Linked DNA regions of Homo sapiens. The protein of the gene in region 2 interacts with the protein of the main gene of each other region in a pairwise test. Each region holds a gene or a part of one and is shown on either strand. Other genes may lie near its edges. The genes, in order: LSM1, DAPL1, TSR2 and FNDC3B.

The links.
Region 1: the proteins of DAPL1 (region 2) and LSM1 interact in binary tests that used the Homo sapiens proteins (3 or more experiments, as listed by UniProt).
Region 3: the proteins of DAPL1 (region 2) and TSR2 interact in binary tests that used the Homo sapiens proteins (3 or more experiments, as listed by UniProt).
Region 4: the proteins of DAPL1 (region 2) and FNDC3B interact in binary tests that used the Homo sapiens proteins (3 or more experiments, as listed by UniProt).

The regions. Positions count from the first base shown.
Region 1 is NC_000008.11:38,166,493-38,173,529, reverse strand, and holds part of LSM1 (U6 snRNA-associated Sm-like protein LSm1), read left to right. Parts: intron 1-1,496; coding exon 1,497-1,565; intron 1,566-3,612; coding exon 3,613-3,728; intron 3,729-7,037. UniProt on the Homo sapiens protein: Plays a role in the degradation of histone mRNAs, the only eukaryotic mRNAs that are not polyadenylated. Probably also part of an LSm subunits-containing complex involved in the general process of mRNA degradation.
Region 2 is NC_000002.12:158,790,610-158,798,316, reverse strand, and holds the start of DAPL1 (death-associated protein-like 1), read right to left. Parts: upstream 3,001-7,707; 5' UTR 2,945-3,000; coding exon 2,887-2,944; intron 1-2,886. UniProt on the Homo sapiens protein: May play a role in the early stages of epithelial differentiation or in apoptosis.
Region 3 is NC_000023.11:54,435,639-54,443,403, forward strand, and holds the start of TSR2 (pre-rRNA-processing protein TSR2 homolog), read left to right. Parts: upstream 1-4,765; 5' UTR 4,766-4,783; coding exon 4,784-4,864; intron 4,865-5,051; coding exon 5,052-5,142; exon of another isoform or gene 5,143-5,253; intron 5,254-7,761; coding exon 7,762-7,765. UniProt on the Homo sapiens protein: May be involved in 20S pre-rRNA processing.
Region 4 is NC_000003.12:172,399,542-172,402,170, forward strand, and holds the end of FNDC3B (fibronectin type III domain-containing protein 3B), read left to right. Parts: 3' UTR 1-2,128; downstream 2,129-2,629. UniProt on the Homo sapiens protein: May be a positive regulator of adipogenesis.

The DNA.
Region 1 (7,037 bases), on a different chromosome or scaffold from region 2:
CCCTATGAAGTCAAATCCAGATGCAGCCTGCGCCCAGTACTTTTCTGACTTTATCTACTGTTCTTTCCCTTCACACCCTCAGCTTTTAGCTAAACATGGATGTATAGCCCTTTTTTCCTCCTCTTTAATTTACAGATTTCCTTCTCCCCCCCCGCCCCCTTCCTATCACTCTTCTTGTGCCCTAAAATTATCTACCTTTTAAGGTCCAACTCTGATACCTCCTTCAGAAATACAGTTTCTCTCTCTGTAGTCTCATATAATTAAGATTTGCTTTCTGTGGTACTTATTTATAGCGCAAGGAAGAGTATAAATTCCTTCAGGGCAGAGTCACTGTGTTTTTCCTCTGTTCTGCATCTAGAAAGTACTTTAGGCATGGAATGAAAGAAATTTTGCTGGGTGCGCTAGTAACTGGCTTATTTTCATTCTTCAGTGTCAGCTCAAAGTCACCTCTTCAGAGAGGCTTTCCCTTGCCACCCTTCCTTCTGTAACCACTTCTCTCCCTTCATCATACTGCCTTGCTAGTTTATTATTCCATTGTCCTAATCACAATAGGTTATTTTCTTATTTATTTGTCCTCCTCCAACATGAATATAAATTCATAAGGTTGGTGACTTTCTAAGTCTCATTCTCTACTGTATGTCTAGACCCCAGAACAGCACATGCCCCCTCAGTAAACATTGAATTTCTGCTCTAGCTTATTATTAGTCTTCATTTTAAATGCCTGAAGCATTGTGTTTTTATTTAAAGCCTTCTATGGTTACAAACAAAATGTGAGATAGAAGCTCATCTTTTGAGGACAAAATAATTCTACAAATAAGATAATAGTCATCTAGATTAAATTTGTCAATTTACAGATATAAAAACTGACATGACATGAGATGGTTTAAGTGTCAAACATAAGGGTCTTTGGCTAGGCGCCATGGTTCACGCCTGTAATCCCAGCACTTTGGGAGGTGGAGGTGGATGGATCATCTGAAGTCAGGAGTTTGAGACCAGCCTAGCTAACATGGTGATACACCATCTCTACTAAAAATATGAAAATTAGCCAGGCATGGTGGCAAACTCCTGTAGTCCCAGCTACTAAGGAGGCCGATGCAGGAGGATCGCTTGAACCTGGGAGGCAGAGGTTGTAGTAAGCCGAGATTGTGCCACTGCACTGCAGCCTGGGTGACAGAGTGAGACTCTGTCTCAAAAAAAAAAAAAAAGAAAAAAGGAAAAAAAAAAAACCAACATAAGGGTCTAGAGCCAGCTAGTCAGGCTTCCTGGTGCCACGCCCTGTCCTTTTCCCACTCTGCCACACTGCTCTGATTCTTTTCACTACTGATGTTATCTAAATCCGCGTTGCTGTGCTGCTTTTTTCAGTTTTCCAATGAACTTGAACTTCACATTAAATGCATTGGCCGAGGAAGTGGTACAGCTTAAACTGTTAATTATTATCCTAAATACTCGCTGAACTTGTCAGTTTTCATTTAAAAGATTTTTTCCTCTCTCCCCAGAAAAGCACTTGGTTCTGCTTCGAGATGGAAGGACACTTATAGGCTTTTTAAGAAGCATTGATCAATTTGGTATGTATTAATTTATGGACATCTCTTATACTCTGGATAATAACAGCAGCCCATTGCATTTTTTGTTATTTAATATTGAAATTTATCTGCAACTTTTTCACGTGTGTGACCTAGTAGGACTGATTTTAGTGAGTACATCATTGTTTTCTATACATTCAGATTAGGTGGTTCAAAGCTTATATATATTTCCAAGCTCGTTTCTAAAACTGGCTTTCAGTAGAATCCCCAGTAGGGGGAGCCAAATGATAGAAATAAACTCAGTCCACCGAAGAGGCTTGTTTTGTTTTGTTTTGTTTTTTGTTTAGACGCGCTCTCGGTCACCCAGGCTGGAGTGCAGTGGCACAATCTTGGCTCACTGCAACCTCCGCCTCTTGGGTTCAAGTGATTCTTGTGCCTCAGCCTCCCAAGTAGCTGAGATTATAGGCTCCAGCCACCACCCCCAGCTAATTTTTGTATTTTTAGTAGAGACGGGGTTTCGCCATGTTGGCCAGGCTGGTTTCAAACTCCTGACCTTAGGTGATCCACCCACCCAGCTGAGCTGGGCAGTTGTTCTGCTCCTCATGGTTTTAGGACAGTCCCTTGGTGTCTAGAAGGTGAGTCAGCTGGTTTGAAGGAGCTTCACTCACATGTCTGGTGCATCAGTGGGGACAGCTGGAAGGCTGGTCTTAGCTCCCATAGTGCTGAGATTATAGGCGCGAGCCATTGTGCCCGGCCCAAGGCTGCTTATTTCTACATTGGCAGGGTAAAATGACTTCAAAGCAGTTCCGGAAGTGAAGGTAATCCCTCCCTAGCCAATGAAAATTGGGTAGAAGGCATTTCCTTTATTTTAAGGACCCCAACATTAAGCTTAATACTTTACATATAGGGATACATTGGAATAAGAGGCCTCTGTCTTTGTTTCGCATCCTGCATTTTTCTTAAGTTAAAAGATTATGTTTCCTTCTGTTTCAAGGAACTTCATGTTCATGCTAACATTTATTGGATATCTGCGAAATCACTGGATTTGAGCATGAGGAAGAAACGTAATTAAAACACTTAAAAGGATTATGGAAGATATGAACATAGATTTCTCCTTTACTTCAAATAGGACAAGTAGTACTAATTGAAAGAGGAAAAATAATTATTGTTAACAAATTGGAGTCCTGATTCTTAAGTCAGATTCATCAGAGTACTTTGAGGGAAGGGTAGTGGCTATTAAGTTGACTTTTAGATTACAAATATAGTTATCTGTCAAGGTGAAAAAATAGGTTTTTGCTGTATCATAACCCATGGATACCTGCGTTGGGTCAAATGAATCCTAATTACTAAAAGAAAGTTGAATCTTCAGCAGATCATCACATACACACCCACACAAAAAGAAAAGCTGTTTCTTTCCAGAAAACAAAAGTTTTGATCTCTGTGGTTGTTTAGGCCCAAGTTTTCCAAGTTCCTTATTCATTTATATTTTCCTATGGTTTTTTTTGGTATTAGCAATTAACTGATAAAGGAATTTATTTCTCTTATTTCTGCTGTCATTCATGTATTAGCCCAACATAATCCCAGACATCTCCTAACTGGTACGTCTTACTCAATGAAATAGGAGAAGATTATTTGAAATTTTAGCCTTCCCCAGAATTAGAAAGCTTGGGGGCCCGGCACTGTGGCTCACGCCTGTAATCCCAGCACTTTGGAAGGCCGAGGTGGGCGGATCACAAGGCCAGGAGTTCAAGACCAGCCTGGCCAATGTGGTGATCCCTGTCTCTGCTAAAAATACAGAATTAGCCGGGAGTGGTGGCAGGCACCTGTAGTCCCAGCTACTCCGGAATCTGAGGCAGGAGAATTGCTTGAACCAGTAGGCAGAGGTTGCAGTGAGCTGAGATGGCGCCACTGCAGTCCAGCCTGGGTGACAGAGCGAGACTCGGTCTCAAAAAATAAATAAATAAAAATAATTAGAAAGCTTGGAAATCATGTTTACCTAAATCTTTTCAAAATAACTGATTATTGAGTTATGGGCCTTTACCCAGTAGTTTAAACTAAATATCTTTGGTTTTTCCCTATACACTTACAGCAAACTTAGTGCTACATCAGACTGTGGAGCGTATTCATGTGGGCAAAAAATACGGTGATATTCCTCGAGGGATTTTTGTGGTCAGAGGAGAAAATGTGGTCCTACTAGGAGAAATAGTAAGTGAAAACTATTAAGCTGCTGTAGATCTTCATATTCATGCTAGTTAGACTTCTTTTTTTGTCTTTTCAAAAGAGAATAAAAATATTCTCCACATTTATCTGGCTTCTCCTAGGCAACTACCAAATTAATTTAGGGAAGCTACAGAGAATACTTTGTTTCAGTGCCTTAACAAATGTGTTCATTAATATATTTGTTTAATAGCAGAAAATTGACAAAGCTTGATTTATATATGCTGGGGAAGGTGTGTCTTACATACGTTGGAATATTTTGCAGTCATTTAAACAATTGGTTACAAGTGGTTTTTCATGGCATAAAGCTAATGCACAGTATTTCAGGGAAGTACATATTGCCTGTACAGTACAATGTGATATCCATATTAGTAAAGGGGGAAAGGGAAAGAGTAGCTATAGGAAAAGCTTTTCCGTTACCTATCCCGAGAATGGAGTTCAGTCTTACTTGGATCCTTAGCTCACAGCCAGGGAGAGGGTATTTTGGTATCTGTGCCAGAAAGACCAGCTGGCAGGTGAAAGGTTAAATCAGATTTTCTGAGGTATTGTTGCTGTAGGTCTTCGTGTGTGCAGACATACACACACACACCCCTACTAGAAGTACTCAGATTTTTTTTTAAAGTATCTTATTTAAAACCTTTGATTTCATCTTGTTATTTCTGATTATTGGGTTTGCAAGGAAAATAAAAATCTCTTCAAGAGTAGTTGAAATTAAGGGTTGAGCCAGCACTGTCTTCTTTTTTCTTACCAAAAACTTTGGTGTTTGCTTAATTTTTAAAGTTTTTAATACTGTTTTCTAAATACCTAGCCATGTCTTAAATCAGTTTGCAGAAATCTTTAGAGTGGTTTGGTTTGTAGCCATTTTTAACAGCCATTTGAGAAAGCAAGGAGATAATTCTGCTAGGGTTGGGTTGGTTCAGAGACCTCATATTGGAAATAGCTAGAAATGACTAATCCAGACTATCAATACTGCCCAAGTGAAATATATGAAGTATATGAAATATATGAATATATGAAATATATGCTGTGAAATATATGAAATAGCTTTTTCTTACTTATAAAATATTTATAAGTAATACTTATAAAAATTTTTCTTATAAAATATTTTTGTAGTTTGTACTTTTAGTTCAGTGTATCATTTCTTGCATGTTTAAGCAGCAGAAATTGTTTTTTGTTTTTTGGGTTTTTTTTTTTTTTTGGGACAGAGTTTTGCTCCTGTTGCCCAGGCTGGAGTGCAATGGCATGATCTCAGCTCACTGCAACTTCCGCCTCCCAGGTTCAAGTGATTCTCCTGCCTCAGCCTCCCGAGTAGCTGGGATTACAGGTGCCCGCAACCAAGCCCAGCTAATTTTTGTATTTTTAGTAGAGACGGGGTTTCACTATGTTGGCCAGGCTGGTCTCGAACTCCTGACCTCAGGCGATCTACCCGCCTCGGCCTCCCAGTGTGCTGGGATTACAGGCATGAGCCACCGCGCCCAGCCAAGCAGCAGAAATTGTTATCTTCTTGTGTCGCATAAAGGCTGAAACAAGGCCAGGTGCGGTGCCTCACGCCTGTAATCCCAGCACTTCGGGAGGCTGAGGCGGGCGGATCACAAGGTCAGGAGATCGAGACCATCCTGGCTAACACAGTGAAACCCCATCCCTATTAAAATACAAAAAAGTTAGCCGGGTGTGGTGGCGGGCGCCTGTAGTCCCAGCTACTTGGGAGGCTGAGGTAGGAGAATGGCATGAACCCAGGAGGCGGAGCTTGCAGTGAGTCGAGATCGTGCCAGTGCACTCCAGCCTGGGCGACAGAGCAAGATTCCGTCTCAAAAAAAAAAAAAAGTCTGAAAGCACCTAGTACCATGGTACCCATGGGGAGACACTACATGACTGTAAAGTAGTCTGCCAGTATTTTTTTTCTTCCAGAGATGGGGTCTCACTATGTTGCCCAGGCTAGATTCAAACTCCTAGGCTTAGGCAATCCTCCTGTCTCAGCCTCCCAAGTAGCCGGGACTATAGGTACATGCCACTGTGCTTGATACTGCCAGTATATAGGGGAGCTGACCCATCTCTGCATGGTGGGGTTATAGATGATTTTTAAAAATACTTTTCTGAATTTAATTTTGAAGAGGCAACGTATCAGAGGAAAAAACTTAAGTTAAAATACTGGGGTGGGTGCAGTGGCTCACGTCTGTAATCCCAGTACTTTGGGAGGCCGAGGCAGGCAGATCGCTTAAGCTGCAAGAGACCAGCCTGGGCAACATGGCCAAACCCTGTCTTTACAAAAAAATACAAAAATTAGCCAGGGGTGATGGTGCACATCACCAGTCCCAGCTACTTGGGAGGCTGAGGTGGGAGATTCACCTGAGCTCAGGGAGGTCGAGGCTACAGTGAGCCATGATTGTACCACTGCACTCCAACCTGGGTAACAGAGCAAGACCCTTTCTCAAGAAAATATTCACAGATATGCTTCTGTTTTATAGTAGTAAACATAGCAGACATGCTTTTTATACTGGTTACATTGGCACAAAGTTACATCTAAGTAGATGTGTGTGTTTGTGCAGAGAAAGAGGTGAACGTGTTTGTTCTTGAAGTTTAATTGTTTCCTTGGATCCCTTTTGTGAGGAAAAGTTCCCTTTTTTAAAAAAATATGTTATGGTTTGGATGCTGCAGAAGTTTTACAGGGGTACCACTACAGAAACTTGGTTCCAGGAATGCCTGCATTGTTATGTGAATCAGCAATCAGGAGAAATTATGTACCAACCCCAGAGGAATTCATACATAGAAATCAGTTTCTGTAAACACTATATTGGTTAAGAAATCCCTGAATTCTGCCTCAAGGACGATGATGATGACACAGCATTAAGTAATAAGACTGTTGGGAAGAAGCAGCAACAGCAGCATGAATTGCTTAGCAAGTCACATACTGAAAAGCCCAAGAGGCAGTGCATTAGGCCGAGAACACTGTGCTCTCTTTAGCTGCTACTCATGGGTTGGGAGGGCAGGTGGTAATATATACTTTGCTGGGTGCTGTTAACTTTGGACCTAGAGCAGGGCTTGCTTATGTAATTTGTGTGGCTTTCATTGTAACTTCTGTGGTGAGAGTCCTCTCTGACTGATAATGCCACTGCCTGTGAGTTCTGAGACCTTGGCAGCATGTGGTAATAGTATGCAGGGCAGAGCATCTGGAGAAGTGTGTCAGTACCGTCCCAAACTTTTATCATTGAAAGTCATAGAGGAGGGTAAGAAACAGGAATACTTTGTATAGGCTTTCCATCTTACAAAAACACCAAATAATACCTGTACATTCATTTT
Region 2 (7,707 bases):
ATGCAGTTTATGGTTGTCCCCCATTTTCTGCATTAGTTTTACAATTGGTCATACTCCCCCTCCAACTTCCTTCTCTCTTTAATGAGTCAGAAAACATATTCTCTTTAGGGATTCAGTGGCAACACCTCTAATGGCTCTGATTCATTTGGCTTAGACCCAATTAAAAAGTGCAGGAAATATAGAAAAAGTCATGAACCACTGCTCTTCTTTCTATTCATCATATATCTGGCTTCCTGGGGTCAACTTCTACTCACACATTTTTGGTGCTGCTGTTCATATAATGGGGTTCTTCTGAAAGTGAGGGTGAGACAAATCAAAAAAGCAGAAAATTCCAAGTTCTTCTTACTGGAGCCCAGGCCACCTTGTGTTTTATGTAGTCTCATTTCACAGCATAAATGTATAACTAGGGCTATCAGAGATGCAATATATTATATTAATATACATTAAAGTGAAACCATTGACTGCTCCATAGATAGGTAGGAAAGAGATGCAGCAGGCTGACTTCTAAGTGATTTTTTTTTTTTTCAGACGGGGTCTCACTCTTGTTGCCCAGGCTGGAGTGCAGTGGCGTGATCTCTGCTCACCGCAATCTCTGCCTCCTGGGTTCAAGCGATTCTTCTGCCTCAGCCTCCCAAGTAGCTGGGATTACAGGCACATGCCCCACGCCCGGCTAATTTTTGTATTTTTAATAGAGATGGAGTTTCACCATGTTGGCCAGGCTGGTCTTGAACTCCTGACCTCAGGTGATCCACCCACCTCGGCCTCCCAAAGTGCTGGGATTACAGGCGTGAGCTACTGTACCCAGCTGAGTGATTTCATTTTTAACTGTGATGGGATAGGCACATATTTTTTCCATTGCAGTTTCTTTCTGTTCCAACTACTGCAGTAGTGTCTAATGCCGCTCCAGCATCAGGATGTCTTGAAATTGGGGAGGATAATTTCTTTTGATAGTGATGTGTTCTACCGGGCCTGCATTTTAAGGGGGCTAACATTCAGGTGCCAGATACTTTACAGAGGTGATCTCTTTTAATCATTACAACAAACTTACTAGATAGATGTTATTTATTGCATCCTGTTTCAGAGATGAGGAAACTCAGGCTCGAAGATGTGAAATGAAGTTGAGGTTCAAACCCAGGTCTGTCTGATTCCAAAGGCTATGTATGTCCCACCCTCCCCACCGAATCGTATCTTCTTCCCACTTTTAGGGATCTGTATTTTGCTTATAAAAATCAAGTGAAAAATTAACAGAATTTTGGCACTTGTTTTTGTTCCATAAATAAAATTTTGCACCACCACAAACAGATTCAGACTTAAAATTAGTGGCAAGACAGGCTGAAGGATGACACTTCTTTGTTCCCTTGTGCTCAGTGGGGAGGCAAAAGTCTGCCTTCATCTCCATTCTAATTATCCAAAACCTCTTATCTGTAGTGTCACAGTTCATAATAATTAATTGTCATGCCAGAGGCATTGTGACATGCTTGATGGAGTCATGGTGTGCTATGTACACAGAGTAATTAGCAATCATTAGTGGTGGGGACAGAAAGTTCCCGGTGGTTTCATTCGAACTTTCATTTGGTTAAGTTTATGTCTGTGTTCTTTGTGCATAAATGTAGTTTAGCAAAACAGGTTTCATCTTAGCCATTTTATGAAGGGTTGGAGTGGAAACAACATAATGAGAATGGAGTTCTTTTTTCTTTTGTCTTTGTCTATGTAAGGAGCCTGTCTTCCAATGATTTGCATATATACTTCCTGACTATTAGCTAGCATAATTAACTTTAAATATAGGTAATGTTAAATATTGCTAAATTTGATTACAAATATAAAACATCAGTAATCTACCAGAGGAGATCAGACCAAGATGTCTAGAGCTGGAAACTCAGAATGAGTAGTAAAATCTGGACTCTTTTTGGCCAGGCTACCCGCCGGAAAGCCACCAAAACAATGTTACATTTTGACTCTCTGTGAAGACAATACCCGCCATCACCCTCTGCAGCAAAGATTATTGAAATAACCTTGGCCTAGAGGTGCCAGAGAATTAGACAGTAAATATGTTTTTGTAAATGGAGAAAGGCAAGAACAAAGCAGTCAAGCTTTTGAGTTCTTTCTTCAGTAAAAAAGAAGGAAGGCAGTTGGAAGAATATAAAACTGACTAAAAATAGGCCTGTACACCTCAGCCAATCTATATGAACATATGGTTAAGTACAATAAAACTAATTTCCATATTCCAGAGAGTCAATATAGATAGCATAAATTAAAAAAAAAGACAACTATGGATGCTTTGCAAACACCTTGACAGCTACTTTTTCCAGTCAGCCTCCTCAAGTCCTGTGTCTTTATTTAAAAGTACTTCTCAGCTTGTTGACAGGTAAATACATCCCCAAAGCCTGAGGAGGGAGAAAGAAATGTGATTGTTGTCCTCTGTGCAGAAGCTGCTTTGCCTGGGTAGGAAGTCACATGATGCACAGGCATCTTGGGGAGACTGAGTCTTACAGCTGGAACCTCTAAAGAGAAAGGTTTCCATGGTAGCAAATCATCTTCCTGGTGTAGATGTGTCACTGCTAATCTACAGCCAGGGCCCCGTGAAAGGAATGCTGCCTCGAGGGAGGAAAGGTGCAACCTCTCTACCTATGCCTTTCCACAAGCCCCAAATCCATACACTGCCGTAGGTAATTAGGTTTTAACTCACTGGGGGTCTGACAAATCCCCGGGTGGATTTACATACAAGCTAAGAAGGATCAAAGACATAAGAGGAAGTCAGGCTGCATGGAGTTAAAGTCATACTGGGTAGACAGAGAAGCTTCCGTCTGTCGGGGTGCTCCATGGAAGGCATTGGTGGAAGAGGGGAGCAGCAACAGCCTGCAGGACTGAGGGCAGGTGGCAGCCTACCTGCAGGAGGATGTCCCCCTTTCCGAGGGGAGAGCAGGTCTTGCACTTCATTTGCCATAGCGTGTGCCAGTGCCAGTGCCAGTGCTGGTGCTCTGGAGGCTGAATGCCAGCTGTGGCTGCCCCACCACCGCACCGGCTTTATAAAGGCAGGGGGCAGGGCCCCTTAAGGGCATTGCTGAGCAGCAACAGGGCTTGTCATCCAGCTCTCTGGGAAACCTGCATCTCCTTGGCAAGTTTTCTCTTAGAAGAAGACTTTCTTCTTCCCTTCATCTGGGAAGGCAAGGTAGATGTCTGCAGGAGACAGGATATTCTTTTCTTTCTTTTTTTTCCACAGGAGGAAAGGGAGAGGATGGAGTTCAGTGGAATTCTTTTTCTCTCCAACCGTTGATCCCTCAAGTGTGTATAGTGCACCTGCAATGTAACAGGCTTTTGTCATATTCTGGCATGACAAGGGGGCCAAGACAAGCTCTTTGCTTCAGGACATCTGTAGTCTTTCTAAAGAGACAGGTATAGAGCAAAGTCCTGTGCCTCTGTCCCAGTTTTTGCAATTATAAGCATTTATACTAAGAAAATAATTGGAAATGTATACAGAGATTTCTGCGCAAGGATGGGAATCATATGCTTCTTTTCTTTTTAAAATATTGATGGGAATCAAGATAAACATCTCCAAATACAGAGGGATAGTTAAGATGAATCAAGAAATCACTGTGAGAGTATACCTTACAATCATGTTTTCAAATAATATTTAATGATGTAGAAATATTAACGATAAGATAGTGAAAAAGTAGACAAGAAACCAATCAATGCCAATTTTGCTAAAAAGGAAAAATACAACTTTAAGCTTAGCCATTATTGTAATTCCAGCGCCAATAAAAGTTTAGCATGTGGCAGATATTTATAAAAATTTCTTTGTTCTTCAGTACAGTTAAAAAACAACTTGAAGAGCAGTTGTCTGCTCTTCGAAAAACCCTGTTAAGAAAATAAAAACAAGCTACAAACTGGGAGAAAATATCTGTAAAATGCATTTCTGATGAAGTACCGACATTTAGAATGTATAAAGAATTCTTACAACTCAATAATAAGAAAGCAGACAACCCAATTAAAAATGGGCAAAAGATTCAAATAAAACATTACAAAGTAAGGATATTGACAACACATAATCACACAAAAAGATGCTCGACATCATTAGTCATTAGGGAAATGCAAATTAAAGCCACAATAAAATACCACTACATATGTATTAGGATGGCTCAAGACAAGAAAAAAAAGGAAAATACAAAATGCTGGTGAAGACGCAGAGCAACTGAAACTCTCATACATTGCTGGGGGAAACGCAAAAAAGCAAAGGTGTTCTGGAAGTCAGTTTGACAGTTTCTTATAAAATTCAACATACACTTACTATATATGACTAACAATCCAATTGCTAGGAATTCTCCCAAGAGTGATGAAAACATATGTACACACAAAACCCTATGTGCAAATGTTTATAACAGCTCTATCAGGATTGCCAAAAGTTAGAAACAACTCCGAAGTTCAACTGTAGAATGGGTAAACAGATTGTGGTGTATCTATATCATAGAATATAACTCAGCAATAAAAAGGGAAACATGGATGAATCTCAAAAGCAACACGTTAAATGGAAGAACCCAGACTAAAAAAAGCTACTTCCTATATAATTCCATGTACATGACATTCTTGAACAGTTGAAACCCTAGGAACAGAAATTGGATCAGTGATTGCTGGAGAGCGGTTGGGGAGAGTGGCTTAATTACAAAGGTGAGGAGGTGACTTTTTGAGGGTGATGGAAATAATTTGTATCTTGATTGTAGTGGTTGTTACATTCATCATACGTCATACACACATCACCTTAAAAGGGTGAATTTTACCATATGCAAAATATGCCTCAACAAATGACAAAAAATCTGTTTGTAAATAAATGAATGTAAATACTCCAAAATGTTAAGAGTGGCATTCTGTAGGTGGGAGTATTACATGTGGATTTTTAAATCTTCTTTCAGTATTCTGTATTACTTTTTAAATAAATAAAAACTAATAAAAGTTTTTTTTGAGGGAAAAGTATGGTAAAGTGTTGCGACAAAGGTTGGCACATTTTTGGGAGCAAAGAGGAAACATTCATATCATCTAGCAGTTATTTTGTGAGTGGCCTTTCCTGCAGGGCCCTGGACTAGGAGCTGGGGTTCAGAGATGAGAAAATCTCATTCTTGCTTTCAGCGATCTCACATTCTCATGCGGATATGGACATGATGAGAAGGTTAACAGAATTCCTTCTATGATTGACAAGGTTTATTGTGGCATTATTCCTCAGAAATTTCTGAGAAGATGGAAATGTTTGTATCTGCTCTGACCAGTGTTGTAGCCACAAGCCACACATTCATTTGAGCACTTGAAATGTGGCTGGTGCAACTGAAAAATTGAATTTTTAATTTATTTAAAATTAAATAGTTTTAATTAATAGAAATAGGAATAGCTACATGTGGCATGTGACTCTGGTATTGGACAGCATAGGTAGGTAGCATAAAGCCTAGATGTGTGACTGTTTGGTACCAGATTTTATTGGTTATCTTCTATATCTATAAGCTGCGAAAGTGCAAAAGGCAAGGAGGAAATCAAAGGGCAACCACCCCTTAGGAGAGCCTGCACCTAGGACAGCCTAAGTGATGTGGAGGAATGAGTGGTTGGACCAGAATATAATGCATGCCCAAGCAGAGAAGGCTTCTTTGGGGCAAATACTCGATTTATCCATGAAGTAATGTTAAACAGGATTTCTTTTCACATCATTCGCATGTAAAGCCTTCAGTTCACAGATGTACATTGTGACCCTCCCCAGGGGGATTTAGTAGGCAGCATCCGCAGAGCATTTTTCATCATGAAAACGTTCGTTCTCATGGCCCTAAAAAAAACCCTTAGAGGGCCAGGATTGGTGGTGCACGCCTGTAATCCCAGCACTTTGGGCAGCTGAGGCCAGCCTATTGCTTGAGCCCAGAAGTTAAGAGACCAGCCTCCTGGGCAACATGGAGAAACCCCATCTCTAAAAAAAATATAATACAAAAATTAGCCAGGAGTGGTGGCACACGCTTCTGGTCCCAGCTACTTGGGAGGCTGGGGTGGGAGGATTGCTTGAGCCCAGGAGGTCAAGGCTGCAGTGAGCCAAGATCATGCCTCTGCATTCCAGCCTGGGCGATAGACTGAGAGCCTGTCTCAAAAACAGAAACCAACCAACAAAAACCCCCTAGAATTTGTGTTCTTGGCTTGGTGGGGTGTTGTGCACCTGGAGTCCCAGCTACTTGGGGAAGCTGAGTTGGGAGTATTGCTTGAGCCCAGGAATTCAACGGCAACATAGCAAGGCCTATCTCAAAATAAATAAATAAGAAAGAAAGAGAGAAAGGAAGGAAGGAAGGAAGAGAGAGAGAGAGAGAGAGAGAGAAAGAAAGAAAGAAAGAAAGAAAGAGAGAAAGAAAGAAAGAGAGAAAGAAAGAAAGAGAGAAAGAAAGAAAGAAAGAAAGAAAGAAAGAAAGAAAGAAAGAAAGAAAGAAAGAAAAAGAAAGAAAGAAAGAAGGAAAGAAAGAAGGGAGGAAAGAATTTGTGCTCTTGAAATCCAAGTTGGAAAATTCTGATCTAAGGGAACGGGAGTAGTGGTATCCACAGGGTGATGGTAAAAGGTAAGTGGCAAAAGCAAAAATGAGGCCAATGTGGCCTCCTCTGGGCCCCGCCCAGCACAGCCTTCCTGCCCTGCCACTCTTTCTGCTTCCACTGGAGGAGGCCCAGGGTCCCAACTCTGTCTCCCTCTGTGTGTGCTTAGGAGCACAGGGCAGCCCCAAAGTGGGGTGGGGTCTTCCCTTGCCTTCTCTTTATGTTCGTCATGAAAAGCCCAGGCCTGTTTTGTACACTGTGAGGTAAGTGGAGCCCAAGTGATTTACTCTGGGGACATACTGGAGCTTCCATCAGGGTGAAAGTCTCATGGAAAGAAGACAACATGTTATTACTCTTTAAATGGGCTTATAAAGCTCACTTTAAAAATGGCATCAGTCGAGTTAACTGCAACAGGAGAGCAGTTCATGCTAGGACCAAAGTATTTGAAATTGTGCTTTGTAATGCAAAAAGCCTAGTAAAATGGATTCTCACGACGTTGAGGTTGCCAGAGAGCTTTCTGTCTTAAAATGAAAGGATGCTTTAACATTAATCATATTTTAAAATCATACAACACTTTCATCGTAGTATTGCACTTTCTTCTTTTAATTTGTATGTGGGAGACATTACCTTCCTCATGCACCTGTATATTTGCAGGGTGCATCTAATTTTTATATTTTCTTTTTTCTCTTAACATTAGTTACATGCTGTACCTTATGCTAAGTTCTGAAAGTATGAGAAATCTATGTTAGAAATCAGGGGCAAGAAAGCTAACTGGGAGGGTGGTGACTCTTAGGTGGTGGGGTGGTGTCTTAATTTGTTTTCTATTGCTTACAACAGAATACCTGAAACTTGGTAATTTATAAAAATAAGCAGCTGGGCATGGTGGCTCATGCCTGTAATCCCAGTACATTGGGAGGTCAAGGCTGGAGGATTGCTTGAGTCTAGGAGTTTGAGACCAGCCTGTGCAATGTGACAAAACCCTATCTCTACAAAACATGCAAAAATTTAGCCAGGTGTGGTGGCGCATGCCTGTAGCCCCAGGTACTCAGGAGGCTGGGGCAGGAGGATCACTAGGCAGAGGTTGCAGAGAGCCAAGATCTCGCCACTGCCTGAGGGATAGAGTGAGACCCTGTATCAAAACAAGAACAAACAAACAAAAAACAGTATTCA
Region 3 (7,765 bases), on a different chromosome or scaffold from region 2:
CCTGTGCTCCTTTCTCCCTGGGCATTGCACAGAGATAGATTTATCGTAGAACAAATCAATCTTAAGCATCAGGGCCCCACACTTGCACAGGCCACTTCCAGGTCTCTGGTTATTGAGCCTGGTCTATTTGAAGAATGTTTAAGATTTGTCGCTGTGCCAAGAGAAGTTAAAATAACCTGAAATCTTACAGCTCACATGTAAAAGAAACTAGAAATTTTCCCAAGTTTGACAAAAATCTTAAAATGTACATTACTAATAATGAGTTGTGAAATTGAAACTTTTCTAAAATACTAATAATAAAAAATTTTACTCAACTGAATTGAAATCAATTGAATTCTTTGTGTTCTCTCTAGAAAATATAAAATACTTGTCATATGAAGAGTTCTATAAACTCTTTGATATCAAAAAATGTAGAAAAATTAGTAGAGAGGTGAGTCATGTAATTAATAAGAATATTTTATTTTGGCAGGGCGTGGTGGCTCATGCCTGTAATCCCAGCACTTTGGGATGCTGAGGCAGGCGGCTCACCTGAGGTCAGGAGTTTGAGACCAGCCTGGCCAACATGGTGAAACCTTGCATCTACAAAACAAAAACAAAACAACAAAGTAATATTTTATTTTTCTGGGTTAGAAGATGTTTGTGACATTTGTCAGTTTTTAAAAATTTGTAATTTGTAAATTAGATTTCTAATTTTAAGGAAATACTTTCATCAATAAATCAACAAATAAGTAAAGTGTACAATTCAATGGCTTTTAGTATAGTTTCTTCTGATTTGCTCCTTGGCTTTCTCCTTAGCTTTCTCACTGTGTGTTCACATAGTTGTCCCTGTGTGTACACCTCTCTGGTGTCCCTCTTTGCCTGTGTCCTCATCTCCTCTTATTATTATATTTTGTTGTTTTTTGTTTTTGAGACAGGGCTTGTTCTGTCACTCATGCTGGAGTGCAGTGGTACAATCATGGCTCACGGCAGCCTCAACCTCCTGGACTCAAGTGATCCTCCCTCCTCAGTCTCCTGAGTAGCTGGGACTACAGCCATCACACTCAGCTAATTAAAAAAAAAATTTTTTTGTAGAGATGGGGGGTCTTGCTTTGTTGCCCAGGATGGTCTCGAACTCCTGGCCTCAAGTGATCTGAGCCATTGCACCGAGTTCTAATCTCCCCTTCTTTATAAGGACATCAGTCATAACGGATTAGGGCCCACCCATGCAACCTCATTTTATCTTAATTACCTTTTTAAAGGCTCTATCTCCCAATACAGTCACATTCTGAGGTACTGGGGGTTAGGGTTTCTACATATGAATTTGGGGGGTGGTGGATACAATTTAGCTCATAACAGCAACCATTACCTCGTCTAATTTTTAGAACATTTTCGACACCCCCAAAAGTAGCCCTGAAGCCATTTAGAAGTCACACTCTATTCTTTCCCCATCCAAGCCCTGGGCAACCATTCATGTATTTTCTGTCTCTATAGATTTACCTATTCTGTATATTTCATATAAATGGTATCATACAATATGTGGTCTTTTTTGACTGGTCGGTAATTATACGTCCTCTTTCGTTCCTGATTTCAGTAATTTGAGTCTTCTTTCTTTTATTTCTTCCTCAGTCTAGCTAAGGGTTTGTAAATTTTGTTGATCTTTTCAAATAACTGACTTGGCCAGTTGCATTTGCTCACACCTGTAATCCCAGCATTTTGAGAGGCGAGGCAGGTGGATCGCTTGAAACCAGGAGTTCAAGACCAGCCTGGGCAACAAAGTGAGACACCCCCTCCCAACACACACACACACACACACACACACACACACACACACACACACAACCACACACACACACACACACACACACTAGCCAGGCATGGTGGCCTATTCCTGTAGTCCCAGCTAATCAGGAGGCAGAGGCAGGAGGATCCTTTGAGCCCAGGAGTTTGAGGCTGCAGTGAGCAATGTTTGTGCCACTGCATTCCAGCCTGGGCAACAAAAAAAGACTTCATCTCTGAAAAAAAAATAACCGCCCAGGTCCGGTGGCTCACGCCTGTAATCCAAACACTTGGGAAGGCTGAGGTGGGCAGCTCACTTGAGGTCAGGAGTTCAAGACCAGCCTGGCCAACATGGTGAAACCCTGTCTCTACTAAAAATACAAAAATTAACGGGGCATGGTGGCATATGCCTGTAATCCCAGCTACTCTGGAGGCTGAGGCAGGAGACTCCTTTGAACCTGGGAGGCAGAGGTTGTAGTGAGCTGAGATTGCACCACTGCACTTCAGCCTGGGTGACAGCACCAGACTCCATCTCAAAACAAACAAACAAACAAACAAAAAACAACAACTGACTTTTGGCTTCACTGTTTTTTCTTTTCTCTATTGTTTTTCAATTCTCTATTTCATTTATTTCTGTTCTATTATTTATTATTTCCTTTCTTATGCTTGCCTTGGGATTACTTTGCTCTTCTTTTTCTGGTTTTGTGAAGTGGAAGTGTAGGTTATTAATTTGATATCATTCTTTCATTTTTTATTTTTTTGAGACAGGGTCTTGCTCTGTCCCCCATGCTGGAGTGCAGTGGCACAATCACGGCTCACTGCAGCCTTGAGCTCCCAGGCTCAAGCAATCCTCCCACCTCAGCCTCCTGAGTGGCTGGTACTACACGCATATGCCACTATGCCCATCTAATTTTGTTTGTTCGTTTGTTTGTTTGAGACAGAGTCTCACTGTGTCGCCCAGGCTGGAGTGCAGTGGAGTGATCTCAGCTCACTGCAACCTCTGCCTACCGGGTTCAAGCGATTCTCGTGCTTCAGCCTCCCAAGTAGCTGGGATTACAGGTGTGTGTCACCATGCCTGGCTAACTTTTGCATTTTTAGTAGAGACAGGGTTTGTTCATATTGACCATGCTGGTCTCAAACTCCTGACCTCAGGTGATCTGCCCACCCAAAGTGCGGGAATTATAGGTGTGAGCCACCATGCCTGGCCTAGTTTTCAAATTTATTTATTTATTTAGTTTGAGACAGAGTCTCACTCTGTTTCCCAGGCTGGAGTGCAATGGCACCATCTCGGCTCACTGTAACCTCCGCCTCCCGGGTTCAAGCCATTCTCCTGCCTCAGCCTCCCAAGTAGCTGGGATTACAGGTGCTTGCCACCAGACCTGGCTAATTTTTGTATTTTTAGTAGAGACGGGGTTTCACCATCTTGGCCAGGCTGGTCTCGAACTCCTGACCTCAAGTGATCTGCCTGCCTTGGCCTCCCAAAGTGCTGTGATTACAAGCGTGAGCCACCACACCTGGCCTAATTTTTAAAATTGTTTTTAGAGATGGGGTCTCACTATGTTGCCCAGGCTGGTCTTGAACTCCTGAGCTCAAGCCATCCTCCCGCATCAACCTCCCAAAGTGCTATGATTACAGGCATGAGCCACCATGTCCGGCTCTTCTTTTTAGATATGCATGTTTACAGCTAAAGATTTCCCTCTAAGTTTTGCTTTAGCTGCATCTCATGCATTTTTTTATGTTTTTGTTTTCATTCATTTAAAAGTGTTTTCTAATTTGCTTTGTGATTTTTTTCTTTGACCCATTTATTGCTTAGGAGTGTGTTAATTTCCATATATTTGTGAATTTTGTAAGTTTCTTTTTACTGATTTTTAACTTCTTTCCATTGTGGTCAGACAACATACTTTGTATGTTCAATCCTGTTAAATCTATGGAGGCCTACTGTATGGCCTAGTGTATGATCTGTTCTGGAGAATGTTCTTGTGTACTTCAGAAAAACATGTACAGTTATCCCTGGGTATCCGTGGGAGACTGGTTCCACGACCTCCGGAGGATACCAAAATTCATAGATGCTCAAGTCCCTGATATAAAATGGCATAGTATTTGCGTATAACCTATGAATATTCTACTGTATACTTTAAATCATTTCCAGATGTGACTCACGCCTATAATCCCAGCAATTTGGGAGGCTGAGGCAAGTGGATTAAACCCAGGAGTTCGAGACCAGCCTGGGCAACATGGCGAAACCCTGTCTCTACTAAAAACACAAAAATTAGCTGGGAGTGGTGGTGGGCACCTGTAATCTCAGGTACTCGGGAGGCTGAGGCACGAGAATTGCTTGAAACCAGGAGACGGAGGTTGCAGTCAGCCGAGATGGCGCCACTGCACTCCAGCCTGGGCCACAGAGTGACACTCGGTCTCAAAAAAATAGATAAATAAATAATTTCCAGGTTACTTATAATGCCTAATAAAGTGTAAATGCTATGTATATAGCTGTTATACTGTACTGTTTAGGAGAATAATGTCAAGAAAAAAAGTATACACATGTTCAATGCAGATGCAATTTTTTCCTGAATATTTTCCATCTGAGGTTAGTTGAATTCACGGACGTGGACTGCCCCCCATAGGGAGAGCTGATTGTATTTTACTGTTGTTGGTTGCAGTATTCTATACAGATGTTAGGATGCTTTTTTTAAATGCAGATTTTTAAGGCTATACTCACTGAGTCCTCTGCCCCAGGGCCTGGAATCTGTATCTGTAATAAGTTCCCCACATATTTCCTCCGCAGTACCCACGGATCCGGAAACCATGGCCCCACACGTCCTTCAGGTCTGGTGTCCTTTGATTTAAGTGAGTAACTCTGGTGGTGTCATCGATCGCTCTGACAGATTTTTCTTTTGCTCTAGTCTTGCTGCCAGGTCTGCGGAAAAGAGAATCCTGTGTTCTCAGGCTCGGCTTGCGTCTCGTTCTGCCTGGGCCGAGCTACAGAGGGATTGGGCCGCCGGGACGTCACGTGGACTGGGGCCGGATAATGGCGGGCGCTGCAGAAGATGCGCGAGCTCTTTTCCGGGCTGGGGTCTGCGCGGCCCTGGAGGCCTGGCCGGCCTTGCAGGTCAGTGGGGCCAGGGCCAGGGCAAGGTCAAGGTTAGGGCCCGGGGCAGAACAGGAGTTGGTTGGGCTAGGTGCCTGAGGCTTGGCTAGGCGGCATAAGAGGAGTTGGCTGGGCGGCGTAAGCGGCCTCCAGGCTACTCCAGGTCTGCTCCCAAGCTGACTTGGTGGGCTTGGACCTGTGTTTACAGATCGCTGTGGAGAATGGCTTCGGGGGTGTGCACAGCCAGGAGAAGGCCAAGTGGCTGGGGGGTGCAGTGGAGGATTACTTCATGCGCAATGGTGAGTGAATGTGAGGCGCCGCGACCCGCCTGTGTGGGGGTGTGGAGAGGAGGAGCCCCATCCCGCAGAGCCTGCATTTCCTCTCGAGCAGTTGTGGATTGGTACCTAAAGGTGAGGTGGAATGAATTCAGCTTTTAGAATCAGAATCCTGGATTCCAGTGCTTTACGGGCTGTACCACTGACTCGTGGGATTACTCTGGACAAGGCAGTTTACCTCCCTGAGACTCAGTTTCCTAGTTTCTAAAATGCGTATAAAAGTATCCACCAGAGCGCTGTACAGTAGAAATATTATGCTAGTCACATATAATTTAAAATTTTTTAGTAGCCACTTTAATAAAGCAAAAAGCAGATGAAATCAATGTTAGTAAACTCGGTGTGTATGAAATATTTCAACATGTAGTCAGTATAAAACATTGAGATATTTTACATTTTTTAGTATTAAGTTTTCAAAATCTGGTATTTTACAGTTTTAGCACATTTCGATTTGGCCTAGCCATATTTCAAGTGCTCAGTAACCACCTGTGGCTGTTTGGACAGCAAAGATCTACACTGTAGGCTCGTCTTGAGGGATATACAAGAACAAGAGGCCCAGTAGAGGGCCTGTTGCATAGTATGGTTTTTAAAAAAATCTTCATTCAATTTCTAGCTTTGGAGATGACATTAGGCAGAGTCATCTCTCTCAAGAAAGTATACTATCCATTGAGGATCCACACACGTAAATAGTTACAACATTGATAGATTTTCTGATAAAGAGGAGCTCAGGGTGCATGGGGTAACAGGATGGGGAGACAGCTTCTTAGTGGAGGTGGTGAATTGGGCTGGGTCTTAGTGAGAAGGAGTTAACTAGGTGGGGGAAGCAGAGAGAGCAACACTCAAGTTCTGTGGCATGAGGGTATAATGTGTTATATTTGGAAAGTAGCAGGGAGCTCAGTATTGGAGTATGGGCGTGTGTGCGTGGGGGGTGGAGGAGTGGTAGAGAATGAAGCTGGGGTGTGGGAAGCCCCCTTGAAAAGCATAAGACATGGAAGCCCTTATGTGCCTTTGATTTTATCATTTAGGCCAGTGTTTGCCAAAATTCATGCTAACTAGTTCTGTTAGATGTTCAGTGAAGAAGCTTCTCCAGTTACCTTATGTAAGAAAAACTCTTGTTCTGCTCCCACTGAAAAGTCTTAACACTCATGAACATATTAAAGGCTTGGGTAAGAATAAGAACCACTAAAAAACCTGTTTGCTTTTGTTTCTCATTAGCTTTCTATGGATAGTGTCCCTTAAGACCCAGCAGAACAGATATTTCTCAAAGGCAAACTGTGAAACACTGCAGTGGCTGGTAAAAATTCGTGGGCAGGTTCTAGGGTGAGAAATAGGATGGGATTTGCTGGCTAGAAAGTTCAGGAAATAATCAGTATGAAGCATAACCTGGAGAGGGAAAGACTGATGAGAACGCTGTTTTTGTCTAGAAACTGATGAGGCCTGAAGTAGGACAGTGGCAACAGGCATGGAAAAGAAGGGGTGGAATAGGGCCTTGGAGATTGGTTGGCTGTAGACAGGGAGGGAAAAAGAGGCAAGTTCCTGGTTTGAGTTGATGGGTGGATTAGGTGTCTTTTCTCGGAGTAGAGGAACCCTGGAGGATGCGAAGCAGGTTTAAAGAGTAAGGTGATGAGTCTGGCTTTAGATATGGAAGATCTGCGGCATCTGTGAAACGTCCAGGCACAGAGTAGTCTCAGTTGGAGATAAATTCGGGGGATATTAAGTTTGAGTGGTAGGGAAAGCCAAGAGTGTGGATGAGCTCTCCCAGAGAAAGCACATAGAGGGGAGAGGGCTAGGAGCTTTGTGGGAGACTTTCTTGAGTTACTGTCTAATTCAGAAAAAGTAGAGCATAGGCCCATAGGTAACTGAAGCCCAGAGAGGAAGGTGGCTCAGTCAGAGTCACACAGTAGGATGTCAGTGTCAAGGCTATGATGATTTCATCATTGGAATTACTATGTCCATTTCTTCTTAACTATCCCATTGGTCTGTGGCTTCTTTTATCAGTGGAACCACAGTTGTGAAGGTTCTCTTCACTTCAAAAACTTCAGCTTTTGCATGATAGAAATTAACATGGATCATGGATCTTCACTGTGCTAGGCATTGTGTTGGATGGTTCCTCATAACAGACCTTTGAGGAGGCCACCATTAGCCCCACTTTACAGATGAGAAAACTGAGGCTCAGAAAGAAGTAGCTTGCTCAAGGTCTCATAGAGGGGAGGCTAGTTAGAATAGTCCAGATGAAAGAGGGTGAGTGTAGGGCTGGGAGTTGTGGAAAGAGGCCTTGGTAGGATGGAAGAGATTGGAAATGAGGTATTAATATTTAGTGGTTCTTTAAAAAATTATGTTAAAACCTGGAATGCAGAACACTTTAGCAGATAAAAGGCAGGATGGAAGAGATTGGAAATGAGGTATTTTTAGTGGTTCTTAAAAAATTGTTAAAACCTGGAATGCAGAACACTTTAGCAGATAAAAGGCTCACTGTGCCTTTACCCACCCAGTTGCAGATCCACCAAGTAGATATTGAAGAGCAGTGGGCAGGGGTGATGAAGTTGGCTGGTCTTTGACCCAAGGGCCCTGTCCTTTTCTACTTAGCTGA
Region 4 (2,629 bases), on a different chromosome or scaffold from region 2:
GACTATAATAATTAGTTTAATTAGCTTTGCAAACTGATGGCATCAAGGTAAATATATTTTTGCCAAAGTTCTGGCCTTCCAAAACTCACCCCCTTATTTAAATGTGTGCTATGACCCACTATGACCACAGCATCTGCATTTTCTAAAAAATTCCATGCAGGTGTTTTGGGGAGAGGTATTTTTTAAGCAATGAAAATTCAACTGAGTACAAAGCCCCCTCTTGGGGGGTTGGGGAAGTCTCTTTTTTGAAACACTTCAGAACTGCTGCTATAAAGAAATTCTCTAATTGGTTGAATTTTTTTTTTAAGTAAATAGTACTTTAGGCCAAAATTTATATGAATATTTGATCTTCTTGAGATTTTCATACTATCATTTAACCACCAGGAAGCTGAAGTGTGTGAAGTACAAAGCTGACAGCACTTTATTTTATTGCTCTCCATTATTTGGTATTCATTATATTCCTTCAGTCAGAAAATTATTACTCTCTATGGCACTGTTTTTTATCACAAATATGTATATGTGATATTGATATATAACTATATATATTGCCATCACACACGAACAATAAAATAAAGTGTTCTATTAACCTGATCTCTTTGCCCTTTTGCTATGTGAGGAGTGAATGAGTGGCCTTCTGATGCTCTGACTCTTCTCTGTATGTCAAACTCATCCCTGGCACAAGAAATTCCAGTCATGTGAAGCAAACTGCCCTTTGTCCTCAAAGAAATTGTTGAAAAAGAAAACTTTTTAAAGAGATTTTTTGCATATTCTCTGCCTTGTTCTTATCAACTTGAAATGTTGGCATTTTCTAACCTTGTTTTGTTGGCTACAATAATTCAGTATTCATGTCAAAATTGAGAAGTGCCCTAATTGAATGTGTTTGAATGTTATCCTTGCACAATTCTTTAAATTGAAAGATAAAATGTTTTACCTCACTGTTGGACATACATTCCAAGCTTTTCAACTCTAGGAGAAAAAGAAAATCATGTTTTCCTGTATTGTAAATTTTAGACTATTTCATATACATTGTATTAAAACTGCCATATCAATTTTAATGTATAGATTTTGCAAATATTATGCTATATGTAATACCTAACTGTATCTGTAGTGTATATGTAATATATTTATGCCCAATAAATGTTTTAATTCTTTCTGACTTAAATAGGGTTTTTCTGCCATGACTAGGATTGCTTTTGTTGTTGTTGTTGTTGTTTCTTTCTTTTTTTTTTTTTTTGAGACGGAGTCTTGCTCTGTCGCCAGGCTGGAGTGCAGTGGCGCGATCTCAGCTCACTGCAACCTCCAGCTCCCAGGTTCAAGTGATTCCCCTGCCTCAGCCTCCCAAGTAGCTGGGGATTACAGGCACTCGCCACCATGCCCGGATAATTTTTTTTTTTTTTTTGAGTTGGAGTCTTGCTCTGTCGCCCAGGCTGGAGTGCAGTGACCCAATCTCGGCTCACTGCAAGCTCCACCTCCCGGGTTCATGCCATTCTCCTGCCTCAGCCTCCCAAGTAGCTGGGACTACAGGTGCCCGCCACCACGCCCGGCTAATTTTTTTAATTTTAGTAGAGTCGGGGTTTCACCATGTTGGCCAAGATGGTCTCGATCTGACCTCGTGATCTGCCCGCCTCGGCCTCCCAAAGTGCTGGGATTACAGGTGTGAGCCCCCGCACCCAGCCTTATTCTTCCCTTTTAAATACTTAAAGCACATTCAGATTAGTTGAAAATTCACGTGTTTTTGGAGGCCAGGCAGGTGGCCTTCTGCAGAGACAGCAGCAGCTCAGCTCTTGCTGACCAAGGCCTTGGAGGACTGTGAGCCACAATCACATATGTCCATGTTTCAAAAGAAGCTAAATATCCAGATTTCCTCCATGGGCCAACTAAAAGGTGATTGTGGACTATACAGGCTGCCAGTTTAATCCTTTATCAGAGTCTCTGTGGATAATGTACCTTGTTGCCTAATACTTTATCTGTCTACCAAAACTCAGTCCAGATCTCCCTCTGTTCACCTGGCACACTGGGTGCTTCCTCTCCCCTGACGAACTCTATAGAGTGTTCATGTCCTTTCCTGCAGGTCTCATTCAACAACAACAACAACAACAGCAATAAAACACAGTGTTCCTGCTATGGCCATGGTTTTGTGATTTTAGATTGTCTTAGTAGGAATTCCCACTATCTCTTTTATTTTTCAGGAAAATGGGTAAAAAAAACTGTCACTTTATTGAACCTCACTTATATGAAGCATGGTAATTATTCTGGGTAAAGATGACAAATTGAGCACATCAAATTTTGAATGCTCCTGACACCACTAAAAGTAAAGGATTTTTTATTTTTTTAAGTCACAACTCAACCCTCAAGACTGGGAAGAAAGAGGAGTTATTGGCACCAGAATTTTGGAAATATGATCAACAAAACTTAATTCTAATTTGGCAGAGGAGAAAATGAGCATCAGTGTTTTTATTCTCAATGCAGGATACCCTAAAGGCTCAAAAATTGACAGCAACATATCCCTTTGAAGTGATAGTGAAGAGAGAGAGGAGGCTAAAATAGTATTGGTTGAAAGCTGTTTAAAATGCAGTTAGATCAATAAAATCCCTCCCCCTTTTTTTTTTCAGCTGGACAAAAATGTCCC